Homo sapiens: one gene and its partners. The protein of the gene in region 1 purifies or fractionates together with the protein of each later gene. This does not show direct contact. Each region holds a gene or a part of one and is shown in the gene's direction. Other genes may lie near its edges. The genes, in order: PFDN1, GIT2, ARHGAP32, UGGT1, KATNB1, DCAF6 and PLEKHA6.

Region 1 (4,598 bases):
GTGGCTTGCCTGTAATCCCAGCCCTTTGGGAGGCCGAGGCAGGCGGATCACTTGAGGCTGGGAGTTGGAGACCAGCCTGGGCAACACGGTGAAACCCGTCTCTACCAAAACTACAAAAATTAGCCGGGCGTGGTGGCAGGCGCCTGTAATCCCAGCTACTCGGGAGGCTGAGGCAGGAGAATCACTTGATCCTGGGAGGCAGAGGTTGCAGTGAGCCGAGATCGTGCCACTGCATTCCAGCCTGGGTGACAGAGCGAGACCCTGGCTCAAAAAAAAAAAAAAAAAAAAAATGTGGCCGGGTGCGGTGGCTCAAGCCTTTAATATCAAAGCACTACAGCACTTTGGGCGACCAAGGCGAGCGGATTGTTTGAGCTCAGGAGTTTGAGACCAGCTTGGGCAACAAGGTGAAAACCCGTCTGTACAAAAATATAAAAATTAGCTGAGTGTGGGTGGCGCGCGCCTGTAGTCCCAGCGCTACTCACGAGGCTGAGGTGGGAGGATCGCTTGAGCGCGGGAGGTAGAGGCTGGAGTGAGTCGTGATTGCACCATTGCACTCGAGCCTGGGTGACAGAGCAAGATCCTGTCTCAAGAAACAAACAAACGTACAAAAAAAAAAAAAAACCCCACAAAATATCCAAGTGACTTGCTTAAAGTCACACAATTAGTAAATGGAACCAGACATAGGCTAAAGGCAGACCAAGCCTTGAATCTAGATTAGGCTGGTTCCAAATTCCCTGCCCTTTCATCTCCCTAACAGTTTGTTTTCTTTCTCTCTTTCTTTCTTTTTTTAAAAAATAAAATAAATTTCCTAATTATTTATGTAGCACTTTCTCTTAGCATAACAGTTTTTAGAGTAGGTTAACTTTTTTTTCCATTTCCAAAAGTCAATTATTATCTATTCTGGTTCAAATGCCAGGTCCTTTTATGGCAGAGATTCTCAAAAAAGTGATCCGCGGAGGAGTTGCACCATTAGGTCACTGGGGTAGTCTGCAAAAGTGCAAATTTCCAGACCCCATTCTCAAAGATTCTGAGTACGTTTGAGATGAGACCCAGAGAACCTGCATTTTTTTGTTTTTAAACAAACGTATTCAGCCTCTCTTGAGAACCACTGTGCCTAGAATGTCTTTGGGAAGCTTTTGGAAGTAATAAGTTCGTTTTGGAAAGAACACTCCAGACAAGCTTTCCAATAGTCTTTCCCAAACTGTCATGCCTGAGGTTCTGGACTTACTCTTACTCATTCCTGAGAGCACAGCGACTAGCTGAAGGACTGATCGACTGATGAGGGTTTGACCTCATCTACATACATCTCAATTTAGCAGCACATATTAAGCTAGCTGGCAAACTGCTTAAAGCCACATGGGAAATCTGCGCGTTGGGCTATGTCTGGAAGATACGGAGGAGCAAGCCAGACCTGACCGGTCAGGTAGTGAAGACACGGAATCCGAAACCCAAATATTTCAGGAGTCAATTCTCAGAGAAAGATAAGAAGCCCGGTTAGTCCAACTCATGCGCAGGCGCAGAAGAAAGACCGGCGCACAAAGTAAGACGCGCCCTTCCCCACCCTATTTCAGTCCAACTCCCACTGCGCAGGCGCTTACAGTGCACCAAGATGGCCGCCCCCGTGGATCTAGAGCTGAAGAAGGTAAAAGAGGGTCTTTGGCAGGCGGAGGTCTTCTTTTTGGAGGCTGAGGGGACTATAGACAAGAATATCAAGTGAGGCACGAGCCTTGCAGAAGGAAGGAGGGTCCAGTGGACTAGGGAATGGTTTCCCAGAGTCCTAAGGCCTCACTGGGTCTCCATAAACGGGGTGGGGGGCGAGCGGCTCTTGCTGGGTAGGAGCCGGTTGGTCTGGGTCGGGTAAGTCTGCGGGCCTGTCTCGGGCTTGTCCAGTCTTTCTGAGCTCCAGAGACATTTCGTTGCGTTTGGAGGCTTCAGGGACTCACTTTCATAGTAAGAACTAAAGAGAGCATTTCAAATGGGGGTCCCTTCGGACCCCTTGCCTGAGCTGTGGCATCCGTAATTCTGCCTCATTTGCTTTGAAAAACTCCAAGTCCAACCTTTGTTTTTAGGCCATTTATTCGGTTCTGTACCTTGAAAGTTGCAATATCTACAGTTCGGAAAACCAAGCATTGTAGCAGCAATGTTCATTTCAGGATTTTGCCCCCCCTCCACTTCTTTTGAAGGACTCGTCAAACAAAACAAAACAAAACCTCCTTCTTTTGAAGGAATTGTCAAAAACAAAACAAAACCAGTAAAGTTTTCCAAATAAAACCGGTATCGGAAGGAATTGGGTTTCCTGTTTTCCTCAGTTGCTTATAAATGTGTTGTTATTCAGATTTTTGCTATCTAAGAATGATCAGCATTCTAACACCACTAATGACCCCAAACCAGTATGCTTTGTGCGGTGGGGTGGATTGGAAAGGACCCTAGAATTTATCTATTTTAAATCTACTTTTCTGGAAAAGGAACCAGTGCCAGAAAAGTCTGTCAGAAGTTGGGACTAGAATCCAGTATTCTCTGCCTTATCTCACACTTTTTTGACCACTATTTTGAGTTCTTCAGATGAGCAACATCTTAGTTAAGACTGCCTGTGGTCAACTTGTGTAAAAGAAATAGGACAGCCGAAATAGCTGTTGCTTCTAACAAATGAAGCTTTTGTTAGTGTTGTGAGGATATTATGTGTTTGTGTCTTGCTTTTGTTCTTCTTGTCTTGAATCTTGTAAATTTAGCTCTTAGGTGGAGTCTCTAATCTTTAACAGTATACTAGCTCATCTTTAATGGTATACTAGCTTCCTTAGCAAGCTGTATAGAGCAGTCAGATGATACCTGGAATTTTACATTTCAAAACAAAATTGTGCATTCTAAAAATTTACCTTTTCTTCTGTTAAAAGTACCGATTTAAATCAGGGTTTAGTGAATGGATTTGCCTCCCGGTACTTTTGAATTTATTGCTACATTTGAAACTTGCGGGCGGTGAATGCAAACTAAGAAAATGATTACAAACTTAAAATGAATAATTTTGATAACCAATTAATTAAAAAACTTGTTTAAAGGTTTTATCTTCTAATGTTTTTACAGGGTCCTTTTTTTGGGTGGAGACAAATAGGAAATTTCAGGCCCCTCCCCTTCCCCAAAGTAAATCTTTCAAAACCTTACTAGTAGGTGAAAACAAGGTCACAATAAAAATTATGTAGTAGCCTTTGCTGTGCATTGCAGTCACAGATGTTATTAAGGCACAAATTTAACAGCATGTGAAAGTCATTCCAGGCACTTCAACAAAAGTATCCAAGAACTGTTTATCTTCCAGTTAAGTAAGTGTACGCAAGGGTCAAATTTGGCCTGGTATCTGTGGATGAAGATCATGATGCAATTCTTTTGCCAGTGCTTTGCATTTTTTCTCACTCTCTTTCTTGGTCTTCCTCTTAAAAATGTTCATATTATGAATATTACTATAGACAGTGGAATGGAAAGATTGCTGAACTAAGGGGTTAGAAGAAATGGATTTAAATAACACCTGCCTTCCCCCCAGTAGTTGTTCAACCTTGTGCAAGCCACTTTTATCTCTTAACTCATTTGGTTACTTAATTTGTAAATTGTGGATGATGAGACTGCCAATGCTAACTCATGGAATTACTGAGAGGCATAAATGAGATATTTATTATATTTCCTCATTAATATTCTTATATTAATATTCCCATGTTAATATTTCAAACTAATGTGAGAAAGTGCTTTGAAACCTAATTGTGCAATACAAATGTAGTGAGTTATTACTTTTATGGTTCTTGTTTTGAATCTCTGGATTTCATCCTTGACTATTGCATTTATTTCTTTTACTACTCCTTGAGTACTTGCTACTTAATATGGTTATTACTTAATATGCATTTGATTTGCTTCACACTGATTGTATCTTCTGATGATTGTAAATTCAGTATTTAGTATGGTGACTTGATTGTTTACAGTTATGTTGACTTTTATTGATGTTTGGTAAATTTCACAGCTTTGTCTCTGGCTAGCATATTTTGTTTTAATATATTTGGATTTGAGGTAAATGTTTCCTGTAAAATGTTTTACCTACTAAATCATGGACTTGTTTTTATTAGGCCTTCACAGAGCTTCAAGCCAAAGTTATTGACACTCAACAGAAGGTGAAGCTCGCAGACATACAGATTGAACAGCTAAACAGAACGAAAAAGCATGCACATCTTACAGATACAGAGATCATGACTTTGGTAGATGAGACTAACATGTATGAAGGTGTAGGAAGAATGTAAGTAAAATGTGTCCTTAATGGAGTTATTTTGGGAGTGCTTTTGTCCGAGTTAAATAGAATTTGTTCATCTTAAAACTTGGGTTAGGCCAGGAGTGGTGGCTCATGCCTGTAATCCTGGCACTTTGGGAGGTCGAGGCGAGTGGATCACTTGAGGGCAGCCTGTTGGCCAGTATGGTGGAACCCTGTATCTACCACAAATACAAAGATTAGCTGAGCATGGTGGCACTTGCCTGTAGTCTTGGCTACTTGGGAGGCTGAGGCAGGAGAGTCGCTTGAACCCCGGAGGTGGAGGTTGCAGTGAGCCGAAATCATGCCACTGCACTCCAGC
Region 2 (3,944 bases), on another chromosome or scaffold:
TGGAAGCAGGAATCTTTGTCTCTTTTCTAATATATCCCAAGCACCTAGAACACTGCCTAATGTTCAATGAAAATGTTGGAATGAATGAATTAATGAAAGAATGAATAAAAACAAAACAAGAGTGAACGAGAGAAAGGCTTACAAGACAGGACAGACCTCCTTAGACAGTCATTGTCAGCATAGATGTGTAGCCTCACTGCCTGTTCTATTAGAAAATACTGACTTTCAAATTTTTTAAATAGTATAGTGACCCTACTTTTATGTTTTAGTTTTGCATTACTCTCAGAGGCCTTGATTTGGTTTGACTAACTTTGCAATTCAGCTGGCTTGGTCAGAATTTGAAATTCTTGAGCTGTTAGTCTTTAATGTTCTCGTCATCTCAGATTGTGAACGTTTTCCCAATTTATTTTTAGAGCCTAGATTCAGATTTATCAGATGGACCAGTCACTGTACAGGAATTTATGGAGGTCAAAAACGCTCTAGTGGCTTCTGAGGCCAAGATACAGCAGCTAATGAAGGTGAATAACAACTTGAGTGACGAGCTGAGAATTATGCAGAAAAAGGTAACATGTTAATAAATGCCAGGACGGTTGACGCTTTAATCCCATAGTACAAGGAAGAATCTCAGGCACTGTGATGTGGTCCGAGGAAAGAAAAACAGTTATTGTAACAGCCTTAGAAATCTTTGGGCCAAGTTGTCTTTTTGAAGCAGGATGTATTTGGATATTTAAAATGAAATATATCCAGAGTAAGTTCCCCAGGTAGGAGAAACCTAACATCTATTTAAGCATTTGTGCCCATTAGAATAACCCTTGGACTATTCTGTGCTTCCTGGAAACCTGGATGGGGCTCCATGGATGTGATTCTTCCCATTGCTAGGGAAGGATGATCACACCATGGAGACAGAGCCAATGAGAGCCCTGGGCAGGGGCATGTTTATCAGCATTCAAACCCTGCTCCCACCCTGGCAGCCCTATCCCACATCCCCACCTTATTGCTCACCAGTTTTTACTACTAACTTGTATTATCCCCAGAGCCTACAGGAGGGCCTGCCACAGAGTAGGTGCTCAAAAAATAAGAAAAAACATTTCATTTGTACTAGGAAGAGCTGCACACTGGTAAAAAACAATCTCATTTGCTCAGCATTTTCTCATTCATTACCTTTTGAGAGAATCAGAACCGTGTGAATATATTAATCCCTAAAAGGAGTGTGGTTGATGGTAGCAAGGAATACCCTTAGTAGGAGGGGGATTGTGTATGCAACTCCTTATGAGATGGCTAAATAAGGGAATTCGAAAAATTGCAAATTTTGCCCATGACTTTGTGGGTATCACTCATCATTCAGCTCTAAAATGAGATTTGGACACTTTACTTAACCAGAAACAAAATGAAATATATAATCTATGTCTTTAGGCTGTCATTTGAGAAGTAAGGTTTTCAAATCATTTTCAAGACCTGAGGACGTGGCACACTCCATGTGTGCCTGGACTCTTTTCAGTGCTGCTTCCTAAAGGAAGGTGGAAGAACTAAAAAGGGGCCCATGCCCCTCTGTTTACTAGGGAAGGAAATTGCTGTGCACTTTTGCCTGGGGTTTGGTCTAGGATTCTTTTGATGTTGACTTCTAGAGCATTTTTGAGACTTTTTGAAATAAATGGCTCTAATGCCTATAGTAGCAGGGAATGAAGAATGCTTAAGATCAGCTAGCCTTAAACGAACAGACACTTGTTCTGTGTCTCCCAGCCCTGTCTAGGGCTGCCGTGCAGCTGTAAACGAGACAGACCGAGAGCCCCTTTGTCATAACATACAGGACCTGTATTTTCTTTGCCTTCTTTGGAATATATTTTATTTAGTGGATTATAGTTTGTTCCATTAATTGGACTAATAATTTTGACCAGGTGACTATTTCTGAAACATGCTGATTTTGCCACTGTAAATCAATCTGCTGCACATCACCTTTTAAAATCTAACAATGCTTCTTTTAGTATTTTTGGAAATCACCAGAGAGAGCCTCATTATCTCTGAAAGCAAATGTCTTGAGCTTCTTTGAGAAATGCAAAGTGAAATTATTTGCTTTTGCTTATTGATTATCTCATCAATTCTTAGAAGTGCTTTTGATTTCTGAAACTATTGAATTGTCTATAACTTTTTATTTTCCCTTATACTCCTTCCAAATAAAAAAGTGTAGCCTGGTTCTTATTAAGATAAACGTCATTAAAATTTATGTGAAGACATCTCTCTAAATACAGAGTACTAACATTTTTAAAAATTGAAACCAAGAACTTGTGCTCATGAGAACACATTCAGACAAAATCCAGGCATGAAAAGTGTTAGGATAAAGTTTCAGATTTCAAGGCCTTAACTAAATAACTGCCACAGAGGCTTTTTATACAGACAAACACGTGATCACATGCACCAGTGCCCCATTGAGGGACCTGTGTCAGTTACACACCTCAGTCCTTGAACCTTGACCATTTCACTCTAGGCCCTGGGTTCTCTAATGAATAGTTTCAACAGGCACTTCATGCCTGTCTGTATCCTGGAATGTAGAAATGTTCAGGGCTGCTTTGTCAGCTGCTTTGCAGCTGTTCTTTCCCTGGAAAGGGAATTGCAGATATGAGCTATACCCTGCCAGCCTTTGTGATATAAAAGCATTCTATCATTCTGTAATGGCTTGCTCTTCAGAGAAACAGAATGAGTGGTCTTTTTGTGGAAGAGGCAGTAAGTCACACTTTCACAGCAGTTTGGCATGATTAATATAAAGTATATGGAATTTGTTTATTTAGCAAAGATGTATTGATTATATTTCAAAGTTGGGTAAAGTTTTTAATATACATAAAGTTGACAAAGTAGCATGATTTGTATCTGATCTTTCACATTTAACAGTTGCTTGGAAAAGATGCTAATTAATGAAGAGGAGCAACTACTATTGGTGTATTTTTCACAGATTGGTGCTTTCTAAATAAAAATTGAAAGTAACTCCTAACATTGAATGGGTTTGCTACTGAAAAAGTAATGATCTTCTGGTGCAAACAGTTGCTTGTGGACTTAAACCTTGGCACTGGTGGGGAATTTGGTCAGATTTTACAATCTCTGTCAAAGAGTAGACAGCTGAACTCACACCACACCCAGCTTATAGAATGTCCATGGAAGATGAAGGCGCACCAGAAGGGAAGGACCCTGCGCAGAATGGACGTGGTGAATGGTGTTTAAAATGCCAGATGCCAAAGAGTAACACGATTCCCTGCTGACCCCTTAACTCTAATCCATCCAGCACCATGGAGCAGCCTGCATGTGAGGAATGGAAGGAGCATTCAGGGCCTCCAAGTGACAGTCTCTAAAATGGGGTGGTGCCAGGCAGATTAGCATGTTCAAAGCTGACACCACTGAGGTCGTGTTTTTTGGGTGACAAAGCCAAAGGAGAGAAAGGCCAAATATTCCAGCCCTGGCCGAAAGATGATCACTCACCAGACGGAAGCAAGCGTGCTGCGTGGAGCATCCATGCGAAGATGTCAATTCCATAGATCAATAGGTTTCCAGTTTTCTTCGTGATATGTTAATATAGCAAACTTACCATGATCCGGTTTTCTCTTTTTTCTTTTTTTTTTTACAAAGTGCTGAATTGTTTGGAATATCAAGAGTATTATGTAATAAAAACTTGTTGATCATAATTTTTCTTGTTGGCTTTTTGGAAAGCAATAGGCGATCTGATTTTTCACAAGCTGAACTTCTGTCTTTCTTGCTTTGCAAAGCAACCCTAGTCATCTTTGTGCTGCTTCCATGGTGTCTGCTGTCATTTTTGGCCTTTACAAATTGCTCAGGGCTCATTTGAAAAGCAAGTTACCTAAATGATGTTTTAATGATCTCGAACTCTTGCTTGAAACAGCCTTAGTAATAATCCAGTGTACAGCTTGCCTGCAAACATTTCCCAGCCCCACCATGACAAA
Region 3 (3,944 bases), on another chromosome or scaffold:
TCAGCACCAGCGAGGAGTCTTTGGAGGGGGCGGCATGGGGACGTATGTGCCCCCTGGCTTTCCCCATCCACAGAGCAGGACCTATGCTACAGCGTTGGGTCAAGGGGCCTTCCTGCCCGCAGAGTTGTCCTTGCAGCATCCTGAAACACAGATCCATGCAGAATGAGCCCTGCGAGCAATAGAGTTGAAGCAGCCTCTGCTGGACAGTGGACTGTTCTATTTTTTTCAATAACCAAAAAGATTAAACAAAAAATACTATAAAACCCCTGACCACATTTAAAAAATGATAATAAAAGTAAACAAATCAGCATCTTTTTCCCCTTCCCTGCTTCATTACCCCCTCTTCCATCTATAGACTTTGTCATTTTTGTCTTTAGAAAAGATCTGAAGGATGGTAAAGCCCCGTGCTGAAACCCAGTAGAGAAACCTGTCTCAGGACACACTTGCCATCTAGGGCTAGCTTGAAAGAGCCTGAGGACTGCCTTTAACTGAATTTGAATTCAGCATTGTCCTTTCTTCTTAGTATTTGCTGCATAATTGAGAGCAGTTCACATCGATTTCCTGGTAGGCGTCTGCATTCCCTGTTGTGTTCCTGCTTCTCCTTCAGTAGCTGCACAACTTGCGCAGATCGACACACTGTTGTCACTTCATTCTCCCCGTCTGAGAAGGATCTTGTGTTCAGTTAGAGTCGTGGAAAAATCCCTGATCCTTCAAGGTCAGTCAGACAGTTGGCAACATTATAATTAAAAATAAGAAATTAAGACTTTAAATTAAACATTTGGTAGAGTCATCATAAAACACCAGACCACTTAGACTCAGGCTGAACCATACTCTTTCTATTCTTATTTTTCATCCTTGTTCCTCACGGTTCAGTGAACAGGCTCATATCATGACAGAATGGACTTTTAAAAGTTAGTACTTAAGGAAACTTCTTTAGGTGGAAGAAAGTAAAGTTCTTATTGTCAGTGAACTTTATTAGCACCAGAAATCTCTATTGATGCTTTTAATGCATTGCCTGCCTTCAGGTTTTCTTCTTACCCCACCCCTCAATAAGATTTGGTGAATTGTAATTCTAGTAAAACATGTCATACCATTGGTTTTCCTAAATTATCAACTTTCTTTCATTAAAAAAAAAAAAAAAAAAAAAAGCCCAGCATGGTTTGACTGGATAGACACGCATAATTTATTATGAATATAAATTTCCATGTTTGTTTCTGTTCCTAAACCAGAGTACGAGGTCCCTGGGAATTTAAGTAGCTACGCATTATCTATTATTAGACTGCAAGTTCCTGCAATAACTGCTTAGTTCACAGCCCCGTTTCACCAGTGGAGTTCTGGGCAGTTATTGCTGTCCTAAGGCATTACTGTCGTTTGCTTACTCTATACTTGTGTGGTCACAGTCTTCTTGTAATTACCATCTACACCAGCATTTCAGGTATAGCTCTTTATAACTCTGGAGACATGTAAAACATGTTTAACACCCACGAGTTTTGAAAGTTGCATTCCTTATTAGAGTAGGAACTCTCTAGCCCAACTCCATTCTATGTTCTCAGCTCCCTCCACCCCCCAAAATACATCAGACTAGCAAGGCAGTCCTATGTTTACAAAACGAGTTTAGATTGTCATTTCATTCCATAACTCTTAATAATACTCAAGTTTTATACATTCACGTATTTTAAATGCTCGGTCTGTAGAAGACACTAGGAGAATTGCATTCCAATTACTGGATGGTTGCTGCTCTGGCTTTTTAGAACTTGAAATTAATTTTTATTTAGAGCAAAGGAGGAAATCTTTTAAGAGGCTAAAATCATGCTGCTATTATTGCTGTGAAATTGTATAAAGATTAGGATTCATGCCAGTTTTTATTTTAAAAAATAATGTGCATTTTAAGGGTTTATATTTAGAAAAAAATAAAATGTTTCAAGAACAACACATTGATATGTGGAAATATTCTATAAGGTTTTCTTTTGTTCCCTTAGAATTCATTGGAGGGATGCAGTAAAAACTGTAGTAGAAACCTTGAAACACCCATATGTGAAAAGGTCTGTGGAAATTGAGGCCTCTACATTAAAAGTGCAGAACCAACTGTTTTACAGTCAAAGTGCTAGGAAACCTGATAGGATACTTCCCTTTGGCACAAAAACACCCTGGGTGCTACATACAGGAGTATGACCTTTGGTGAATATGTGGCACTAATTTTTTTTACCTTAATCATATTCTTGTCAAGTAGGCAACCCATTGCCCCTTGGAGACCACACCAGCCCTGTAAGTTCTCACCAGCAGCATGGAGATTAGGAAGAGGGGCTGCTGTGACCAGGAGATACACACGGCTTTAAGTAACTGAGAGCCTAAAGAAAGTAACCCAGGGAGTCCGGTCCAGTTTTAATATTTGTGGATTTGTTGTCACACACATTGTTTAGTCCTGAAACTAAAACCTATTTTATAAATAGTAGGGTTAATTCCTCGAAACAATTTCTTTATTAATAAATGTCCTGTGGGTTTAGAAATATCAGGTAAATATTTGAATACAGAATGATGATTGCAATTACTGTTACAAGCGTGAAACACAAACTTCAGATCAAATCTAGAGTTGCTTCATTTAATGCATGCTAGCAACAGCCTTAACTTTGGATTCAGTTATTTGAAACACTTTTCCGGCATCTTTCCCTTTCTAATGTTGTGGGGTGGAAACCGGATGGCAAATCACTGTGAGCCGGATACCTCAGCACAGTCCACCTTGTGTGTGACTTCACAAATGGGGGACTTCACAAATGGGGTAACTGAATGTTATTACTTTCAAATTTTGACATGGAGCATTATGATCAAGGAAATGGAGCTGCCTTATACATTAAACCCGTGATTTAATCCTATTGACATTTTCATAGCCATGCCTCCAGATTTTATCTTTTTGGCAAAATTCTGATTCCACAGTTTGGTCTGATTGAAATAAATATTCCCTGGACGTCTGGCTAAAAATTTTGCTAACAATCCCAGAGGTGCCATTTTCTTATTAATAAATTTCATTGGAGCCTTATTTCTTACTATATTCAATTTCGTTTCAAACCTGCAAGTCCCTGGGATGGTCCCACGACTAGGGCCTGCACATTTCTTACAATGGCAAAGCATTTTTTAAAATTTAGGGTCAGGTTGAAAAATTCTAGGACTAATTCTGTAGAGAGGAGGGACTGTTAACTAACGTGAGTGGGGACGGAGGAGTAGGTTACCACATTTGGAGCAGTAATAGATGCAAACGATGTAAATTTGAAATTTGCCCCTTTAGTTAAAGAAGGAGCCTGCAAAGTCCATTTCTCTGTTTTCAGCCCTGTCAGTCACCCATTTAGGATGTTGGCAAAGTACTGCTTGAGCAGAATGTGTAAGAAAGTAATAATGAAAGCAAAAGTATGTCAGACAGTTACTTCTTCCACATGGTTAGAGGCATGTGATTTTCAGCACTGTGTGTTACAGAAATGTCAGGAATGGTGTATTATAACGTGTGCAAGATAATGTCAGTGTGCACAGAGGGTCTTTTTTCCTTATCTGATTAGTACTGTTAATGTTCAAAGAATAAAAATGGTTTTACAGTTTAGATTCTGAGATAGCAAAACCTGATTTTTCAACCATGACCTGCATGAGAGAAGCATCCTAGGAAGTCTTAGATCATACTTTTGAGTTTTTAATTTTAATTTATATAGTGTTTTTTTATGTCTTAATATTTTTGTGAACTGGTGTAAATTGTTAATGCATATAAGCTTGTGTATTTTTGTAAATAGTTTTGTGATTTATTTCTTGCCCCATATGTAAATATTTAGAGTCTCATTTCTTGCAAACTTATTTGAAGCTGAGTTGTGGGTTTGGGTTTTGTTTGTTTCTTTGGTTGCAGGGTGGGGTGGGGGGTGGCAGGGGAGGGAGGAAGGGATTTTTGTACCTGGAGATGGAGATATCTT
Region 4 (4,422 bases), on another chromosome or scaffold:
TGACTGCTGCTGTCCACAACTGTGGGCGGAAGTGTGCCTTTTCCCAGTTTCTCGTCCAGGAGGTTGCATAGCAAATACTCAAGTCACTGGGATATATGCTTTCCAAATGCTGGCCCCCATAGCACCTTTCCCCATGTCTTTCTACCAAGCCTCTTATGTTTAATCTGTGCAGGGAAGACAAGAGTAGACCATATTCTCTGTGTGCTGTGCATGTCCTGGTGTCACTCATTGCCTCTTATCTGTCGCCATTCTAATATAAGTCAGCTTAATAGTTGACTCTGAATAATGCAAAACCCAGCTTGCTTCCAGAATGGCCTAGGACCCTCCTCCTCCTGCCAGTTTTTTTTTTTTTTTTTGGTTCATGTGGCATAATCATCTTTCAAAATTAACCAAATGCCCCAGAAAATGATGTTACCACTAAAATATTTTCTCCAAGAAGGCATACTGTAACAGAAAAGATAGGTAAGATATTTTTTTCCCAAGAAGTAAGAATTGATTGTGCTGAATGTTCAAACTCTGGAAACTGTTCACAGTATGTTGTTCTTAGCTGTTATTTATATAAAGTGAATTATTTTCTCTCTCAATCATGCCATAGTGGAGACTTTTGTTTGTGAGTAAGTGACAGAGTAATATGAAATAATGTGATATGTCAGAGTGACATGCAGCATCCTGAGCCTGTTTTTATGTTCTGTGTACAGTGGCATTTGATTGAGATCAAAGCCTGTCACAGCCTGCTGCTGGGGGTGTGGGGATATGCCAGAGTCCTGTGTTTGGTTTTAGAAGTTTACTGAATGTTTCCCACATGGAGAATAATGGATGGCATGTTAGTTTCTTTAAGAGTGGTAAAGTTGTACATCTGTCATTGTTGCATTTCGAATTGAACACATAGATGCTTGCCTGTCTGCTTGGGTGAATGCCTCTTGGGAGAGCGAAGATTACGTGCATGATGTATGTTAAGAAACAGTTTCCGGTCAGGCACAGTGGCTTACACCTGTAATCCCAGCACTTTGGGAAGCCGAGGCGGGCGGATTATGAGGTCAAGAGATAGAGACCATCCTGGCCAACACGGTGAAACCCCGTCTCTACTAAAAATACAAAAATTAGCTGGGCATGGTGGCACACACCTGTAGTCCCAGCTACTCGGGAGGCTGAGGCAGGAGAATCACTTGAACCCGGGAGGTGGAGGTTGCAGTGAGCCGAGATCATGCCACTGCACTCCAGCCTGGCAATAGAGCGAGACTCCGTCTCAAAAAAAAAAAAAAAAAAAAAAAAAAAATTAAAACAGTTTCCATAAATGGAGCTTAATTTGCTCTGCTGTCCTTAAGCCCTCGTGGGTTTTTTTTTAAGAGAGTCTCATTCTGTCACCCAGGCTGGAGTGCAGTGGTGCGATCTTGGCTCACTTCAACCTCTGCCTCCCAAGTTCAAACAATTCTCCTGCCTCAGCCTCCTGAGTAGCTGGGATTACAGGCGCCTGCCACCATGCCTGGTTAATTTTTGTATTTTTAGTAGAGATGGGGTTTTACCATGTTGGTTGGCCAGGCTGATCTCAAACTCCTGACCTCAGGTGGTGATCTGCCCACCTCGGCCTCCCAAAGTGCTGGGATTACAGGCGTGAGCCACTATGTCCGGTCAAGCCCTCGTGTTCTGAACCTTGTCAAGGCTCTGCCTGAATGAGTTTTCATCTGATTGTGGGGACCAAGTCCCTGAGTAGAGGGCCAAGAGCTAGGGACAGGGGGAAGAGACTGGCCCAGGTGGTAGGGAGGAAAGAACTCCCAGAGTTTCCTTTAGCCAGGAAACCTGCTCTACTGACCCCGTGACTTGGACAGTCAGACATCACCCTGAGAGTGACAAGTGTAAAATGACTCCCTTCCTCCCCCGCCCTCCGGAAGTATATTTAGATACTTGAAAGCAGTCCTTTTCTAAAATGGCCTTACCTATGTGGCCTGAACGATTAAAAGAAAGAACTCAGAGTTACAAGGGAAAAAGAAAAAGAGTTACAAGGGAATTGTAGTCTTTTTCTGAATAGAATATTAGTACTGTGGTATTGCATTTCATGGGAATGGAAATGTATTGGTAAAGCTACCTGATGGAAGCTTTCTCTTGGTAACAAAAATGGAGGGTGTATTATGTGCAGTTATTTAAATATATGTATTCCATTGTTGCGTGGTTTTTTTCCCCCCTCAAGACAGAGATTTGCTCTTGTTGCCCAGGGTGGAGTACAATGGTGTGACCTTGGCTCACTGCAACCTCTGCCTCCTGGGTTCAGGTGATTCTCCTGCCTCAGCCTTCCGAGTAGCTGGGATTACAGGTGTGCGCCACCACACCCGGCTAATTTTTGCTTTTTTTTTTTTTGAGACAGAATCTCGCTCTGTTGCTCAGGCTGGAGTGGAGTGCAGTGGCACAATCTCAGCTCACTGCAGCCTCTGCCTCCCGGGTTCAAGAGATTCTCCTGACTCAACCTCCTGAGTAGCTGGGATTACAGGTGCCTGCCACTATGCCTAGCTAATTTTTGTATTTTTAGTAGAGACGGGGTTTTGCCATGTTGGCCAGGGTGGTCTCGAACTCCTGACCTCAAGTGATCCACCCGCATCGGCCCCCCAAAGTGCTGGGATTATAGGCGTGAACCACCGCGCCTGTCCCATTGTTGTGTAATTTTAATAATTAGTTTTTTAAGTACTTGATTTTATGGGCACATTTTTGTGGGATGATTGGAGTTAATCAAATAAAGCTTGTCATGTGTGTAGTTTGGTAAGATAACTTCTTTAAATTCATGTTTTCTCTGCCTTGAGGTAGTGAGGGAAAGATCTTAATCAGTATTTTGGTAATTAACTGATTGAATTCAAGCAAATGAGACATCATGAACTTCAGTGGTTATTGATATTTCAGGGTATATACCTGAAATGCCTAGAGGATACAGATTTCTCATTTCATTCTTTGGTCTTTCATTTCTCTATATACAGAAATGAAATGACACTTCTGGGAGGCAGTAGAAGCAGGAAGTCAATGAATTGAGTAGAGGGTCCCATTCCCTCAGGCTGTCATTGATCAGTGACAATTTATAAAAACAAACTGCAAAGTCTGTGGCAAGTGGCTGCCTGCTTCCTAGAAGGAGCCCATGAAGGTTAAACTCTGTGGTCGGTATTTGCAAGCGCCGGGCGTGGTGGCTCACGCCTGTAATCCTAGCACCTTGGGAGGCCAAGGCAGGCGGATCACCCGAGGTCAGGAGTTTGAGGATTTGCAAGCAAAAGGTCCTCTCCTGAGTCTTTCCCAGATACCCAGCAGTGCAGAGGCTAGCTGTGGAAGGTTGCAGTGGGACAGGAATGTATTGTATGCCTTGCCTTACTTGTCACCATTGAGATTTCCAGAGAAATGGGCATAACGTCTCTTAACAACAACAGCAGAAAGCAAAATACATTAACTTAAGGTTGACAACAAAAGATTATCAAGTACCATGTTTTCCAACCAACCAGTTATTCGTGGTAATAATAAAATAAAGGTGGGAAAATGTTATAATTTTTAAGGAAACTGTGTACTTTAAAAATCTTCTTTATGAATATCCAATGTTACTGTAATCCTGCTCCATTAAATGCAGCATTGTTGTCAGGTGCTGCCTCTTGCTTGGGAACAGCATTGGGCTTTTAAATGTCTGCAGAATCTCTGCGTTCGAAGGGAATTGAGAATGAACTTCCTGGTACTGTAATGAAAATAAGGTCTGCTCAACACAGTAAACGTTTCCTCTCTTCTTTAAAACTGCGCAGTCATTTGGCCTTTGTGTTTAGGAAGGGCAGATTGATAGAGCACAAAGTCCAACCCCTTCATCTAGCAGAAGCTGCAAACCCAGACAGAGGAACGAGGGCTTTACCTGAGTCTTGTCTGCTGCTGGGGCTGGCTTCGGGTTGCATCCAGTTCTTTGGATTCTGAGGATCCAAAGCACCCAGGTCTCCTCCAGGTCCTCAACCTCTGGGAGCTGCCCCAGGCAGAACTTGGCAGGCAGGCATAACAGGTGGGGTGGGAGGGGGAACCTCAAGGCAAGAAGGTGTCATGAGACCCCTGGGCCGGCAGAGTTCCTTAGGAGGGTGGCATGGACTTTGCATTTTGCCAGTTCTCTGAGCTCCTACTCCGGGGTGGATATGCATTGAGGATGTAGTCTCTGTGTGATGATGGGGAGGGCGGGGAGGGGCACCTGGTGCCTGTGAAGGCGCAAGAGAGGGCCCTAAGGTGCAGGACCAGGACTAAGCTGCTACAAGGAGGTGGTGCTTAGGTTGAAGCCTGAGGACTAAGTAGGGGCGAGGGGTGGGCAGAGGGGAGGAGCTTGAGCTAGTGTTTTTGAGGGAGCTGCATGGAAGCCTGCACGTGGCCAGGAGAGGGGGAATGGGTTTGATCCTGGGGGCACAAGAAGGCCCTTCAGGGGTTTAAACTGGG
Region 5 (3,944 bases), on another chromosome or scaffold:
ACACAGGGTGGGACTCCGCCACATCCTCTCTGGGCAGGGCAGGATTTTGGAAGCCTTGCTGTGGGATCCAAGCTGAGTGGGCTGGGAGCGGGTGTGGACTGGAGCAAGAGCCAGCGTGGCCTCCTTGGCCAGGAGGCAATGCCCAGCCCCCAGCAGCACCTGATAGCTACACGGAGCAAGGAGTGACAGCTGCAGAGATTCTGGTGCAGGTGAATTGGATATGCATTCGACAGACTCCAGAGGGATGTGAAAGTATCCAGACCCAGCTCCAGCGCCAGACAGGGCCAGCTGCAGAGGGGCACTGAGGCCTGGGGAGGAGGAGAGAAGGCCCAGCTTGCGGGACAGCCAAGAGCAGAAGGCAGGCCTTGTGCAGGAAGAAATGTGAATGGGACTAATTAAGACTGGCATTTATTGAGCACTTACCATGTGCAGAGCCCGTGCTAAGCACTTTATGTATGTTTACTCCATTCTGTGACCCAACATGAGGCCCAAAGACAGTAAGTGATTGGCCAGGGTCACACCACCAGTGAGGAGCGGAGCCAAGGCTGATCCCAGTATTGTCTGATGCCAGAGCCCACATCCTGACTTTGGGGGTAGAGAAGATCATACAGTAGAGTTCATTTAATTCACCCAGTGCTTGGATCTTGACTCTGCAGTAAAGTGTTATATATGGAATCTTGAATACCTCCTCTGACAGAGAGCTCACTACCTCACAAGGTGACCTATTGCACCTTGGCTCAAAACTAAGAATGGCTGGACTCCCACATTTCCTGACCCTGGCACTTGGGATGGTCAGTTTCATTCAGATAGTGAATTATGAATCTTTCCAAAAGCAGGAAACATGAGACAAATCTGAGTGGTACTGGAGGACACCCTGAAACACACAAGGTTTGCCTCCAGGCTGGGCCGCTCCTGGCCATGGAGATGCCTGCAAAACCTTCAAGGAAAGGATAGGAGATGTGGTTCCTAGGGCAGTGGGAGGCGATCAGGCCCCACCCCAGGAGTTCTTTGGTCCTCGCGTGTCCTCCCTGTGTCCTCTCAGTTCTCACTGCTCCTCAGTGTGTCCTCACAGCCACCCTCAAGATCCCTTGGACAGAGGTCACCCAAGAAGACTGGTGTGTGCACCAGGGCCACCCCAGCCATGCCCTCCACTTGCCCTTCTTAGGGCCTTTGCCCATCACCTCCATCTACCTAACAGCATCCCTCATCCTCCACCCACTGACATCTACTCAAATACCACCTCCTCCATAAAGCCTTCCTGGATTTCTCTTTCCAACCAAGCAGCTTCTCTCCCAGCTTGAACCTCTCCTGGTCTGTCTCTCTCCTTGCACTGTCTTGGGTGGGGTTCAGTGCCCTGCAAACCATAAGCTCCACACCCATGGGGCCTGAACTGAGTGTGGTGGTTCCCTGGTTCTGCTTCCGCTGGAGCACAGTCTGTGGGGAGAGTGTGGTACAATTTCTGCAGACTTGAGGTAACATAGGGCTGTCACCTCTCAAGAGAAATGTGGGAAAATTAGTTGTTGGCAGGACGCAGTGGCTCACACCTGTAATACCAGCGCTTTGGGAGGCCAAGGCGGGTGGATCACTTGAGGTCAGGAGGCCAGCCCAGCCAACGTGGTGAAAACCTATCTCTACCAAAAATATAAAAAAATTAGCCGGGTGTGGTGGCACATGCTTGTAATCCCAGCTACCTGGGAGGCTGAGGCAGGAGAATTGCTTGAACCCGGGAGGCAGAGGTTGCAGTGAGCCGAGATCACGCCATTGCATTCCAGCCTGGGCGACAGAGCAAGACTCCTTTTCAAAAAAAAGGAAGAAAAGAAAATTCGTTGTTAGGGTGGTGGGACCCTTGATTGTTTCCTACTGTTTTAAAAATGTGTGTTATTGTTCTATTTTTCTGTGCAGCTAATCCAAAAGCGCACACACAAATGCCCACAGCAGCCCTTCCTCTGCCAGCCTTCTCATTTGCCTCTTAGCCACTGTCTCTGCTTTCCTTCTTGTTAGTTCTTCGCACACTCATGGGACACAAAGCCAACATCTGCAGCCTGGATTTCCACCCGTACGGCGAGTTTGTAGCCTCTGGTTCCCAGGACACAAACATCAAGGTGAGAGGCCGGTCCGTGCCCCGTGTCTCCTGCTGGGCCTGTGGCAGGACCAGCCCGGCCCGGCCCTCAGTGCTGGATGCCTGCTGAGGGGACCTCTTCCCTTTCTGCAGCCACATCCACACCATCCTAGGGAAAGCGGGTGGCAGGCATCTATCTGCCAGATGCTTCTGCTCAGAATGCCAGCTTTAGTGAGCAGTTTCTGTCCTTGTCTCCGTGGGGAGTAACGACCTAGAGAAGGCTGGGCCCCACCGTCTGCTCACGACTGCACACCTTCCTCCAGTCGTGGCTCTGACCTCTCCTGACTCTGCCCCTCTGCTTCTCTCTCCCCCACAGCTCTGGGACATCAGGAGGAAAGGCTGTGTCTTCCGATACAGGGTAAGGATGCGCTCTGTCGGTGACTCCATGAGCACCTTGCGGGCATTGAGTGTGGTGTGGTGCCCAGACCCCAGCAGGGGGTGGAGGGGACGGCTGTCCCACATGGGTGATAACATAAAACATAGACCTGGAGCTGAGCAGGAGCGCCATGGGCGGCCCACCTGGATCCCCTGGCTCTGCATGAATCCCCTAGAGCCACGTTCATCAAACTGCTCCAAGCAGAACCAGGCGGGTAACCAGTGTTGTTAGATGGAAGGGGTCCCATAGGAGTGAGGAGGCAGGGAGAGGTCTGTTGGGCCCAGGATCCCAGGGTGAGCTCATGCCGTGTCCTCCCTCAGGGGCACAGCCAGGCCGTGCGGTGTCTCCGGTTCAGCCCCGATGGGAAGTGGTTGGCGTCGGCCGCAGATGACCACACCGTGAAGGTAGCTCCCGGCCTGACCTGGGCCCAGGGGCTGGGGGCTGGGGTCTGCTGATCACAGCAGGCTGAGTCCTCACCTCCCTCCTGATCGGGCTCACATGTCCCAAGCCTATCCCGAGTGGAAGGTAGCTTGTGGATAAAGAGCTTGGCCTGGATTAGAGGGAGGGTGGGCAGCCAAGATGCCTGGTCACCCTGACCTCCTCCCTGCCCTGCCTCCAGCTCTGGGATCTCACTGCCGGCAAGATGATGTCTGAGTTCCCTGGTCACACGGGGCCTGTCAACGTGGTCGAGTTTCACCCCAACGAGTACCTCCTGGCCTCCGGCAGCTCTGACAGGTGAGGAGGAGGAGCGAGGCGAGTTGCTTGTGACTGCTGTCCTTCACCGCCTTGTCCTCTGTGCGTGTCTCTACTGCCGGTCTGTCGCTGTCTGGGGTGTCATACGTCTGATGATCCTGTGTGGACTGAATTGGATTTCAGCCGAGCCAGGACTGGACCCTGGTCCATCTCCCCTGGCTCTGGTTCCCTGGCCCCAGTGTCCCAGGTCTGTGGCTTCATGGGCAGGTTGGGACCCAAGGCATCTAGTGGGACCCCATAGGGCAGGGAGGCTCGTGGCTGTTGGGGCCAACCCTGGGGCCAGGGCCATCGGGCCGAGCCTCCCCCTTGCAAAGTCAGGGCCAGCTCTGCCCCAGATGTTGCTCCTGGTGGCCCTGCCCTGGGGGAGAGGTTTCTAGAGAAAAGCTGGCTTCCCAGGGACATGTGGAGGCCAGGATGAGGGATAGGCTTCGCAGCACAGCTTGGCTGCCTTTGCAGGACAATCCGCTTCTGGGACCTGGAGAAGTTCCAGGTGGTGAGCTGCATCGAAGGGGAGCCTGGGCCCGTCAGGTACGCAGGCTGTGGGGTGGGCGGCCCAGCGCTCCTCCCGGCAGTGGGGCGTGGCTGTGGGTGGGCCTTTCCCATCTCCGCTGCTGCGCCCTCCCTGCCCTGGGCCCTCTGGATTCCTCGGGGTGGGGACCAGGCTGGGTGCCACAGGACCCACGGCCATCTCTCGCC
Region 6 (4,464 bases), on another chromosome or scaffold:
GCTCAGTCTGCAGGCCTCTGCCAGCAGCAGCTGAAGAAAGTGACCTTTACTCCAAACCCTACAGTGCGACAAACCACCCATCCAGCTCTGCCTAGAGTGGGTTAATATGCCACAATTCGAAAAGAGAAAGAGAATGAGTGTTTCATGGTGGCCCCAGACAGTTTGGTGGCCGCAGAAGTTGAGAAGGCTCAAATCTGGAGATCAGGTTTGGGTTGGAGTCGTGCGTAAGGGAGCGGATGTCACATAGGTGGGGAAGGGAGCTGACTTGAGATACGTTGGCTTAGGAAGAGATGTTGCAGGAGAGAGGGTGAAATGCACAGGCTAGGAGAGTAGACGGCTTCACTTGAAGGGAAGGGATTGGGGCTGTGGATGCCTCTAGAGGCAGTTGTCAGAGGGCCTCTAAAAGGTCCATTTTAGAGGAAGCGAGAAGGAAGGTCTCGATAAGGAGCCATTCAGGGTCCATTACCTGCTGGATGGTTGTACAACGGCCTCAATTTCTCGGGCAGCATCAGCTCCACTTTATCGAGGAGCCGGTGGTAGGTGGCCCGCAGGCCTCGGGCACCGGCGGCCGACATCGCCGCCGAGGGATCGTTGGCAGCCGGGTGGGAGCGTGGCTGTGTTCTCGTCCCTGGCTGACAACGAAGGGGAGCTAGTCACTTTTCCTGCCACGACGACTCGCGTCCGCCTCTCGCCTGGAGTACCCTTCCCGCGGCTTTCCCTGCCCGCTGTGAACCGAAAAGCTGCGGCCCGCGCCCCGCGAAGGTTGAGGGGGCGGAGGCTGCCGACTGCCAGCCCCCGGTCCGCCTCCGGCCCCCGGCAGGAGAGAGGGAGGAGCCATGGCAACAGGTGCCAAAATAATCACCTCACCAAGTCTGCGCTGCGCCCTGCTGGCAGCGCGCTTGCGCAGGCCGAGCTGCCCGCCATGATTGGCCCGCCCCGAGGCGCGGGCGGGGTCGAGCGGAAACCTCCTCCTTCTCCCCATGCCCTCGAGGCCATGTTGGAGAAGGGAAAGTGAAGCTGCGCTGGTTCTACTGCCCTTTCACTTTGATTAAGCAGGCCCGTAGTTAAAATGGGTTTTTGGGCCTTCAGTGCCTAAAGATGATGCCGCACAATTCTCTTGCTTCTTTTCACTGGAGACTCGTGAGCGAGAGACTACAGAATTGAGTAGCTTCTCTCTCTACTCGTCTTTTATCCCTAGCGACTTAAGGATCTGGTTAGAGTGGCCCGAATGCATTCTTCCAGGGTGAGGGCAGCCGCAGCACACACCAGCCTCAGTCCCCAGGGTGGTCGTCATCTCGCGAGAAAGGGTTGGCGGGGAGGGTATCCAGGACGAGGAGAGGGAGGAGTCGCCATCGCCTCCGCCTCCGCCTCCTCCTGTTGGAGGGGGGCTGAGGGAGGAGACTGTTGCTGATCTTTGGATGTTCTGGTTAGTCTAAGAAGGAGAGTATGAGGCGAGCTCCGGCCCGGGTGCGGCCGGGCTTCAGGGGCCCAGGCGCCGCTGCTGCCACCGCCATCTAACGCTGCGCCCTGGAGGCCCGGCGCGCGGATGGTGCCGGTGCGGCTCGGGTGTTGAAACGGGTGTCCCCTCCCCCTCCTCCCCTCCCCCACGCGGTGGTCTCCCCTCCCACCCGGCTCAGGCAGAGCCATGTCTCGGGGTGGCTCCTACCCACACCTGTTGTGGGACGTGAGGAAAAGGTCCCTCGGGCTGGAGGACCCGTCCCGGCTGCGGAGTCGCTACCTGGGTGAGCGGGGGCCCCGGGGCGGAGGCGCTGAGGTCGCCGCCTAGAGTGGGGGAGGGGGCACGCTGCCGGGTCTGTTGGAGGTGGGACGGCGTCTCGGTGGGGGCGCCCGGAGACTCTGGGGTGTTGGGTGGGGCCTTGGTTGCCGAATTCCGTGCCGGTGCCTCCCCCAGTCAAGCCCCCTGTGCATGCTGCCAGCCGCCGCCCTTGCTGGGTTTTTCTCGGAGGGCCGGGCCGTGGGCAGAAGGTACTGGCTTGTAAAGGTGTTGGGGTCGCTGATGGGTTGGGACTCGGGAGACTTGCGGAACCTCCAGGAGCTGCCGCGTTTAGAGCAAAAGTTAGCTCTTTTGCTCTTTTCCAGCGCGCTTTCCCCGCTCAGCCGAAGAACCTAAGTTGTTGCCCACCCTCTCCTTCAATCTCCAGAGGGTTTAGGTGTCGGCTGCGACGCGTTGACCACCCTCAGGGACTTCACGCTCCAGACAGAATCCGTGTAAACTGTTTTTGCGGCGCTGAGCCAAAACCTAAAAGTGATAGCTGAGCTCTCCCCACCCCCGCGCGCTCTCCCAGTTCCACTCTGCTCTTCAGTTCGTTTTGACCGCTTAAAGGTGGTGTAGGGTTTCACGTTCCTCTTCCCACCCCTGGAAAACACACTTGGCATTTACAGTTTCGTAGTTAAGCTTTCTAAAAACAACCTTCAGTACTTGGGGGAACAGTATTCCACTTTTTTCGTTTTGCATAACATTTTTTTTTTGAGGATTCTAGGTCACGCCCGAGTCAACTAAAAAGTTTGGTTTCTTAAAAATGGACGTACTTAGTAAAGGTCTTTTTTGTTTCTTCCTGTATACTCTTCATTACTCTTTCTTTCTATTTGGAGATACGGCAAACAACATCATAAAATTTTTTTCTTTCCAGTTTTGCCACTTGCTAGTTAAAAAGTGTTTGTTGCTCTCATTTGTTTTTGATTTCAAGTAAAGAGAAGAAAATGAAATCTCATTACAACCAACAGTTCTGGTTTGTAAATTATTTAAGAAAAGTTAGCATGCAATTTTTTAATTCTTTTTAGTGTCTCAAGTAAAATACGAATACATTTTGTTTATAAAAACTCAATAAAAATGAAGCAAAAATCCCTTTGATCCCTCCCATTCAATTTCACTCCGCCACCCTTAGAAATAATATTTTCTGTTTTCTGAATATTCTTCCAGACCTTTTTGTTTGCATTCTTACAAGTACATATGTACATGTACAAATGCTGGGGTGTGTGTGTGTTTGTGTGTGTATGAGAGAGACACCTGAGTGCATGGTGTCATATTGTAAACATTGTTTTCACTTCTCCACATTTTGGAGATCTTTCCATGGCAGTAAAAATAGATTGATTCTGTCTTTTAAATTATTACATAGTAGGTAACATTATGAAGTACCATAGGGTACTCAACCTTTCTTCTTTAAGTAGACGTTCGCCCTTACAGCATTTTAATGAACATCATTCTACAAGCTTCTGTGCATTTGTTGTAGGATAAGTACCTAGAGTGGTGATTAATCATTTTAAAATTGAACATAGCTGGAGTCTGGTTTTTAAAACTATTTACCAAAAAAAGTGTGCAGTATTTCTTTTAGAATTTATTTGCGGAGAAAGAACTTAATTTTAGCTTAATAAAACAAACGTTAACATTGTTTTGCATGGATACATTTATAATTTGGTCCTTTATCTCAGTTGGACAGTTTAAGTACTTGTATATAGTTCTATATTTTAGTGTTTTCTTTTGGTTCAGTTACTTCAGCTATATCTACAAACGAGTTAATTAAAATATAACAAAACCATATACCTGCTTTTCCCCCTCCTACTCCAACTCCCTAATGGAAATGGAATTTGTGTATTGGGTCTAGGGGAATTGAAGGGTTCACTGACTATATTAGAAAGCCTGAATTACAGTTTTTCAAATGTGTATGTATACATACAGGGAGTTCTTTATCTTAAATAATATTTTAGATATGATAATATATACTCTTAAAATAGGACATTTTTGGAATGACTTCCTTTAAAAGTGGTTTTCTAAGTACTTGAAAATACTTTTTGAAAGTATCGAAACTTGAAAATGTTTGCAAAGAACTAATTTATTGGCCTTTACCCTTAGTAGACCTTTACACTGTTATTCAGCTCTTCTATACTACAGTGCTAATCCTGGCTTTGCATTCAGGAAGCAGCAAAATCCACATTGGTAATGTTTGAATTAGTGATGGTTTTTTTTAAAAAATGACTTTCCCTCCCAGTTTTATTGGGGTATAATTGACAATTAAAAATTGTTATATTTAAGGTGTAGGACTTGATAACTTCATATACAATCAAGTTAATTAACATATCCATCATGTCACATAATTACCATCTTTTTTTGTGTGTGGCGATAAAATGACTTTATCATTATTATTAATTTTATTTTTATTATTAGATAAAATGACTTTTTAAAGTACAGTACTCTTGGCCGGGCGCGGTGGCTTACGCCTGGAATCCCAGCACTTTGGGAGGCCAAGGTGGGTGATCACTTGAGGTCAGGAGTTTGAGACCGGCCTGGCCAACATGGTGAAACCCTGGTCTTTACTAAAAATACAAAAATTAGCCGGGAGTGGTGGCGTACGCCTGTAGTCTCAGCTCCTTGGGAGGCTGAGGCAGGAGAATAGCTTGAACTTGGGAAGTGGAGGTTGCAGTGAGCCAAGATTGTGCCACTGCACT
Region 7 (3,944 bases), on another chromosome or scaffold:
TGTCCCCTGTTGAGTGGGCTAAGCTAGGCTACTGAGGATCTCACTGGGAAGTGTGCTGAGGTCCCAGAAAGCATTTAGTCCTGTGGCCTCTTTTCCTTGTGGCCTAAGAACTTTGAATTTCACCAGGCAGACTCTTTTCCCGTGAAATAGATGCATCAGTGAAGACCAGAGCAAAACCACAACTTGTCTGCAGTTGCAGAGCTGGTCAGGAGCAGAGCCAGGCTTAGCACTGCGATTCCCTGACTCACTCTCCACCACCAGCCTGAATTTCCCTGGTGCAAGCTCTCCACTCCCCACCCCTTGGTAGGCAGAACTGGGCATTGTTGGGTGCTGCCATTCCCGGGGGAATGCTGAGTAGAAGAGGACAATCTGAATATTCCCCCTTCCCTGTGCTCCTCACCGTTTCCTGCCACGTCGTCTTCTGTCTCTCCCTTTGGTGTTTGGTTGACCTGTTCTCTGCTTCTCCTCCTTCTGACCGCGTGAGGACCCCTCCTCTGGACAGGAGCTCTCTTCTGGGTTCCCGCCCGCAGTACCTGCTCGCAGCCACCAACTAGGTAGTGTGCCCCATCTGTATGCCAGTGCCTGCTTTGCATGCCTGCAGAGAGGGGCTTGGCTGTCTCTCCACGTGGAAGAGACAGTGCTAGCTTCTCAGCAGTGAAGCTGGGGCTAAGATTGGCATGTGCTCAGGGGGTCCTCTCTCCCAGACATGGGGTCATTGCCTTTGAAATCAAACATGGAATTTGCCGGGAGAATGGGTGTGATCATTGTCCCTCCTGCTTTAATTACCCCAGGTGGGGCAAGTAGGCTGACCTGGTTATTGGGCTGCCTAATGGTGCCCAGAGAGCCAGCCAAGGTGGATACGTGGGTACCAGCTGGAACCCTCGGGGTAGCTGCAAGCTGCCCTCTTCACCTTGCTCCTGAGCTCCGCATGGGGAAGAGCCCCAGGTGCAGGGAATGGCCCAACTGACTGCCCATTCTGTGGGCGTTGGTGTCTTCTCCCAACAGGTGACTGTGTGCTGGGTGGATGAGGCCGAGGCCAGCTCCACACGCTGCCTCTCCCCACAGGCTGAGCATGCCGGGGTCCGCACCTACTTCTTCAGTGCCGAGAGCCCCGAGGAGCAAGAGGCCTGGATCCAGGCCATGGGGGAGGCTGCTCGAGTACAGATCCCTCCAGCCCAGAAGTCAGTGCCCCAAGCTGTGCGGCACAGGTGAGTGCCAGGGAATTGAGTGTGGGGGTGCAGGAAGAATAAAGAGGGGAATGGAAGACACACCCAGCTCTGGGCCATTGCTAATCCCAGTGTGCCTACTTGAAGCCCTGGAGAATGTGTGAGCCGTCTCCTTGCATCCAGGCGGGAGGCCTGGCTGAGTGATTTCAGAGCCTGAAGTCTCTCTTCCCCTAGCCAGCTCCTCCTCTTCTCTCTGAGCTCGGGAAGGCCAAGAGAAAAGCCAGGTTCCATTGGGGTCTGGCCAGGAGCCAGAGGTCAGGGTCATTTGCTGGTTTTTCTCGGCTGTGTGTGTTAAGCACACCGCCTTTGGAGGAAAATAAACTCAGGTTTGAATCACACCTTGTCCACTTGGCTGTAGCGTGATCTCAGTGCAAGGGACTCACCCTCTCTGAACCCGAGGTTCCTCTGCTCAAAAACCAGCAAATACAACTCTACCTCATAGGGTTGTTGTGAGGCCTACACAGAGTGCGTGTAAAACACTCAACATGCAGTAAACTCTTAACATATGGCCGCTCCCATCGCCCGCCGTCACCCACGGTCTCAGCGTCTGTCTCTCCCTTAACTGGATGTGGAGTCTTGAGTTAGGTGCTAAGGGGGATCCAGGAAAAGGGGGTTTCACAGTGTAGGCTCCAAGTCCACATATCTTAGAAATGTTTACCAAGCAATGTTTCAACAATCCCACTTGAATATGTGGAGTTTGGGAAGCTGTAGGGGGAAAATTGTCACAAATTTCCATCTTCGCTTCAACCAAGGGGCATAATTCCAAGAGTTCATTCATTCATTTCACAAATACTTACTGTAAATATAAATGTGCAAGGCACTGTAGTGGGTGCTAGGAACACAGGGGAAGAAAGTCTGCCATGTTCCTACCCTTGTGGGGCCTGTATTCTCATGGAAAGTCAGTCCTGGAAGAAATGTGTTTTGGAGAAGGGAACTAGCGTGTTTATGTGCTTGTGAGTTTGAAAGCAGAAACTTCTGCTCCTGGTGCCCGCCATGTTTTATCTCACAGCAGTCCTAGGAGGGGAGCTATTATTATGCCCATTCTGCTGATGAGGAGCCCAAGACTCTTGGCAGTTAAATAACTTTCTATAAGAAAGACAGCTGCCCCGTGACAAGCCTTTGTCACTGGAGTATCAAGGACAGTTACTGATGTGAGTGCAAACCCAGTTTGGGGAGCTGGGTCAGGGATAGATCGCAGAGAGGACCAAGACTAGGTGAGGTTAGTCATGCCATAGCTTGAAGGCTGGGCTCAAAGCAGACTGACAGAGGGGAGTGGGGTGGAGAATGACCTGCAGAGAAGACGTGGGGGGCAGAGTTAACACAGCAGGTGTGGGCAGGGGCGGATTAGGTTGTATAATAATTTCCCAGGCTGGAGCGAGAAGGTGAAGGGGTGGGACTTAGGAAGCAGAACTGGAGTTCATAGAATCCTGGTTCCAGCCACCTCCCTGCCCATCCTTCCCCACTCCTCTTCTTCCCAGTCTGGCACCCCCTGCCCCACTCCATGCTGGGCTAGAGTCACTGACAGCATCTCCCTTGGCATCCTGCAGCCATGAGAAGCCAGACTCGGAGAACGTCCCACCCAGCAAGCACCACCAGCAGCCACCCCACAACAGCCTCCCTAAGCCTGAGCCAGAGGCCAAGACTCGAGGGGAGGGTGATGGCCGAGGCTGTGAGAAGGCAGAGAGAAGGCCTGAGAGGCCAGAAGTCAAGAAAGAGCCTCCGGTGAAAGCCAATGGCCTCCCAGCTGGACCGGAGCCAGCCTCAGAGCCGGGCAGCCCTTACCCCGAGGGCCCAAGAGTGCCAGGGGGTGGGGAACAGCCTGCCCAGCCCAATGGCTGGCAGTACCACTCCCCAAGCCGGCCAGGGAGCACAGCTTTCCCGTCTCAGGATGGAGAGACTGGGGGACACCGGCGGAGTTTCCCACCACGCACCAACCCTGACAAAATTGCCCAGCGCAAGAGCTCCATGAACCAGCTTCAGCAGTGGGTGAATCTGCGCCGGGGGGTACCCCCGCCTGAAGACCTTCGGAGGTGAGGCATGCCGGCGGCTGGGGTGGGGCTGATATGGTATTATGGCTAGAGCGTGCGAGTGGGGTCATAGCCCACGAGGCATCCCCTGTTGGAAACCTTCTGGAAGCAGGCTGAGTTGGGAAACCAAGCAAATCCCATGCTTCCTGGCTTGCCCAAATCCTGCCTGCCCCATGGCTCCACCATTAGAGTCTGGCTGCTGTCCCTGATTCTTGGTTTCTTTGTCTGCTTCCTTCAGAAGAAGGGACAGAGTGCCCCAGTGCCTCTCCACGGCGTGCTGGGGAGCCCAGAACACAGCAGGCTTTGGGAGGGGGCCTGAAGTTGTTATAGTCATACATCCATCCAAGCTATGGGCCCTCCTACAACATCCTCTCCCCAGTGCTCCACCCACTTGAGACTCACTAACTGCCAGACCAACTCATTCCATTTTTGAACAACTCTAATTGTTTTAAAGCCATGATTTATATGAAGTTAAAAAACAAAACAAAGTAGCTCATTGGTCCCAACATGGCCATCTATGACCATTTACGCCTTTATCCAATGACTGACTTTGAAATATCTGGGGACATTTATTGGGCCCAATGGTGTCCCTCAGGGCAAATGGGCTGCAGGCTCCTTCCCTGGGGATTTGGGCAGCTCCAGGGACTGCAGGCCACAGCTTCAGGAAGGCCATGGGGCCCGGGAGGAACCT

What was found.
Region 2: the proteins of PFDN1 (region 1) and GIT2 purify together in Homo sapiens (co-immunoprecipitation; 2 studies listed by BioGRID and IntAct, with this or other methods). This does not show direct contact.
Region 3: the proteins of PFDN1 (region 1) and ARHGAP32 purify together in Homo sapiens (co-immunoprecipitation; 2 studies listed by BioGRID and IntAct, with this or other methods). This does not show direct contact.
Region 4: the proteins of PFDN1 (region 1) and UGGT1 fractionate together in Homo sapiens (co-fractionation; one large-scale study listed by BioGRID). This does not show direct contact.
Region 5: the proteins of PFDN1 (region 1) and KATNB1 purify together in Homo sapiens (co-immunoprecipitation; 2 studies listed by BioGRID and IntAct, with this or other methods). This does not show direct contact.
Region 6: the proteins of PFDN1 (region 1) and DCAF6 purify together in Homo sapiens (co-immunoprecipitation; 2 studies listed by BioGRID and IntAct, with this or other methods). This does not show direct contact.
Region 7: the proteins of PFDN1 (region 1) and PLEKHA6 purify together in Homo sapiens (affinity purification with mass spectrometry; one large-scale study listed by BioGRID and IntAct). This does not show direct contact.

The regions. Positions count from the first base shown.
Region 1 is NC_000005.10:140,300,085-140,304,682, reverse strand, and holds the start of PFDN1 (prefoldin subunit 1), read left to right. Parts: upstream 1-1,581; 5' UTR 1,582-1,609; coding exon 1,610-1,642; intron 1,643-4,100; coding exon 4,101-4,267; intron 4,268-4,598. UniProt on the Homo sapiens protein: Binds specifically to cytosolic chaperonin (c-CPN) and transfers target proteins to it. Binds to nascent polypeptide chain and promotes folding in an environment in which there are many competing pathways for nonnative proteins.
Region 2 is NC_000012.12:109,947,786-109,951,729, reverse strand, and holds part of GIT2 (ARF GTPase-activating protein GIT2), read left to right. Parts: intron 1-413; coding exon 414-563; intron 564-2,883; coding exon of another isoform or gene 2,884-2,907; exon of another isoform or gene 2,908-3,944. UniProt on the Homo sapiens protein: GTPase-activating protein for ADP ribosylation factor family members, including ARF1.
Region 3 is NC_000011.10:128,965,129-128,969,072, reverse strand, and holds part of ARHGAP32 (rho GTPase-activating protein 32), read left to right. Parts: coding exon 1-166; 3' UTR 167-3,944. UniProt on the Homo sapiens protein: GTPase-activating protein (GAP) promoting GTP hydrolysis on RHOA, CDC42 and RAC1 small GTPases. May be involved in the differentiation of neuronal cells during the formation of neurite extensions.
Region 4 is NC_000002.12:128,191,928-128,196,349, forward strand, and holds the end of UGGT1 (UDP-glucose:glycoprotein glucosyltransferase 1 precursor), read left to right. Parts: 3' UTR 1-3,750; downstream 3,751-4,422. UniProt on the Homo sapiens protein: Recognizes glycoproteins with minor folding defects. Reglucosylates single N-glycans near the misfolded part of the protein, thus providing quality control for protein folding in the endoplasmic reticulum.
Region 5 is NC_000016.10:57,748,826-57,752,769, forward strand, and holds part of KATNB1 (katanin p80 WD40 repeat-containing subunit B1), read left to right. Parts: intron 1-2,001; coding exon 2,002-2,102; intron 2,103-2,435; coding exon 2,436-2,477; intron 2,478-2,815; coding exon 2,816-2,899; intron 2,900-3,114; coding exon 3,115-3,230; intron 3,231-3,704; coding exon 3,705-3,776; intron 3,777-3,944.
Region 6 is NC_000001.11:167,935,267-167,939,730, forward strand, and holds the start of DCAF6 (DDB1- and CUL4-associated factor 6), read left to right. Parts: upstream 1-1,416; 5' UTR 1,417-1,645; coding exon 1,646-1,742; exon of another isoform or gene 1,743-1,806; intron 1,807-1,812; exon of another isoform or gene 1,813-1,986; intron 1,987-4,464. Other genes in the region: MPC2 (mitochondrial pyruvate carrier 2), read right to left, coding at 467-575. UniProt on the Homo sapiens protein: Ligand-dependent coactivator of nuclear receptors. Enhance transcriptional activity of the nuclear receptors NR3C1 and AR. May function as a substrate receptor for CUL4-DDB1 E3 ubiquitin-protein ligase complex.
Region 7 is NC_000001.11:204,258,570-204,262,513, reverse strand, and holds part of PLEKHA6 (pleckstrin homology domain-containing family A member 6), read left to right. Parts: exon of another isoform or gene 1-554; intron 555-1,005; coding exon of another isoform or gene 1,006-1,065; coding exon 1,066-1,208; intron 1,209-2,773; coding exon 2,774-3,256; intron 3,257-3,944.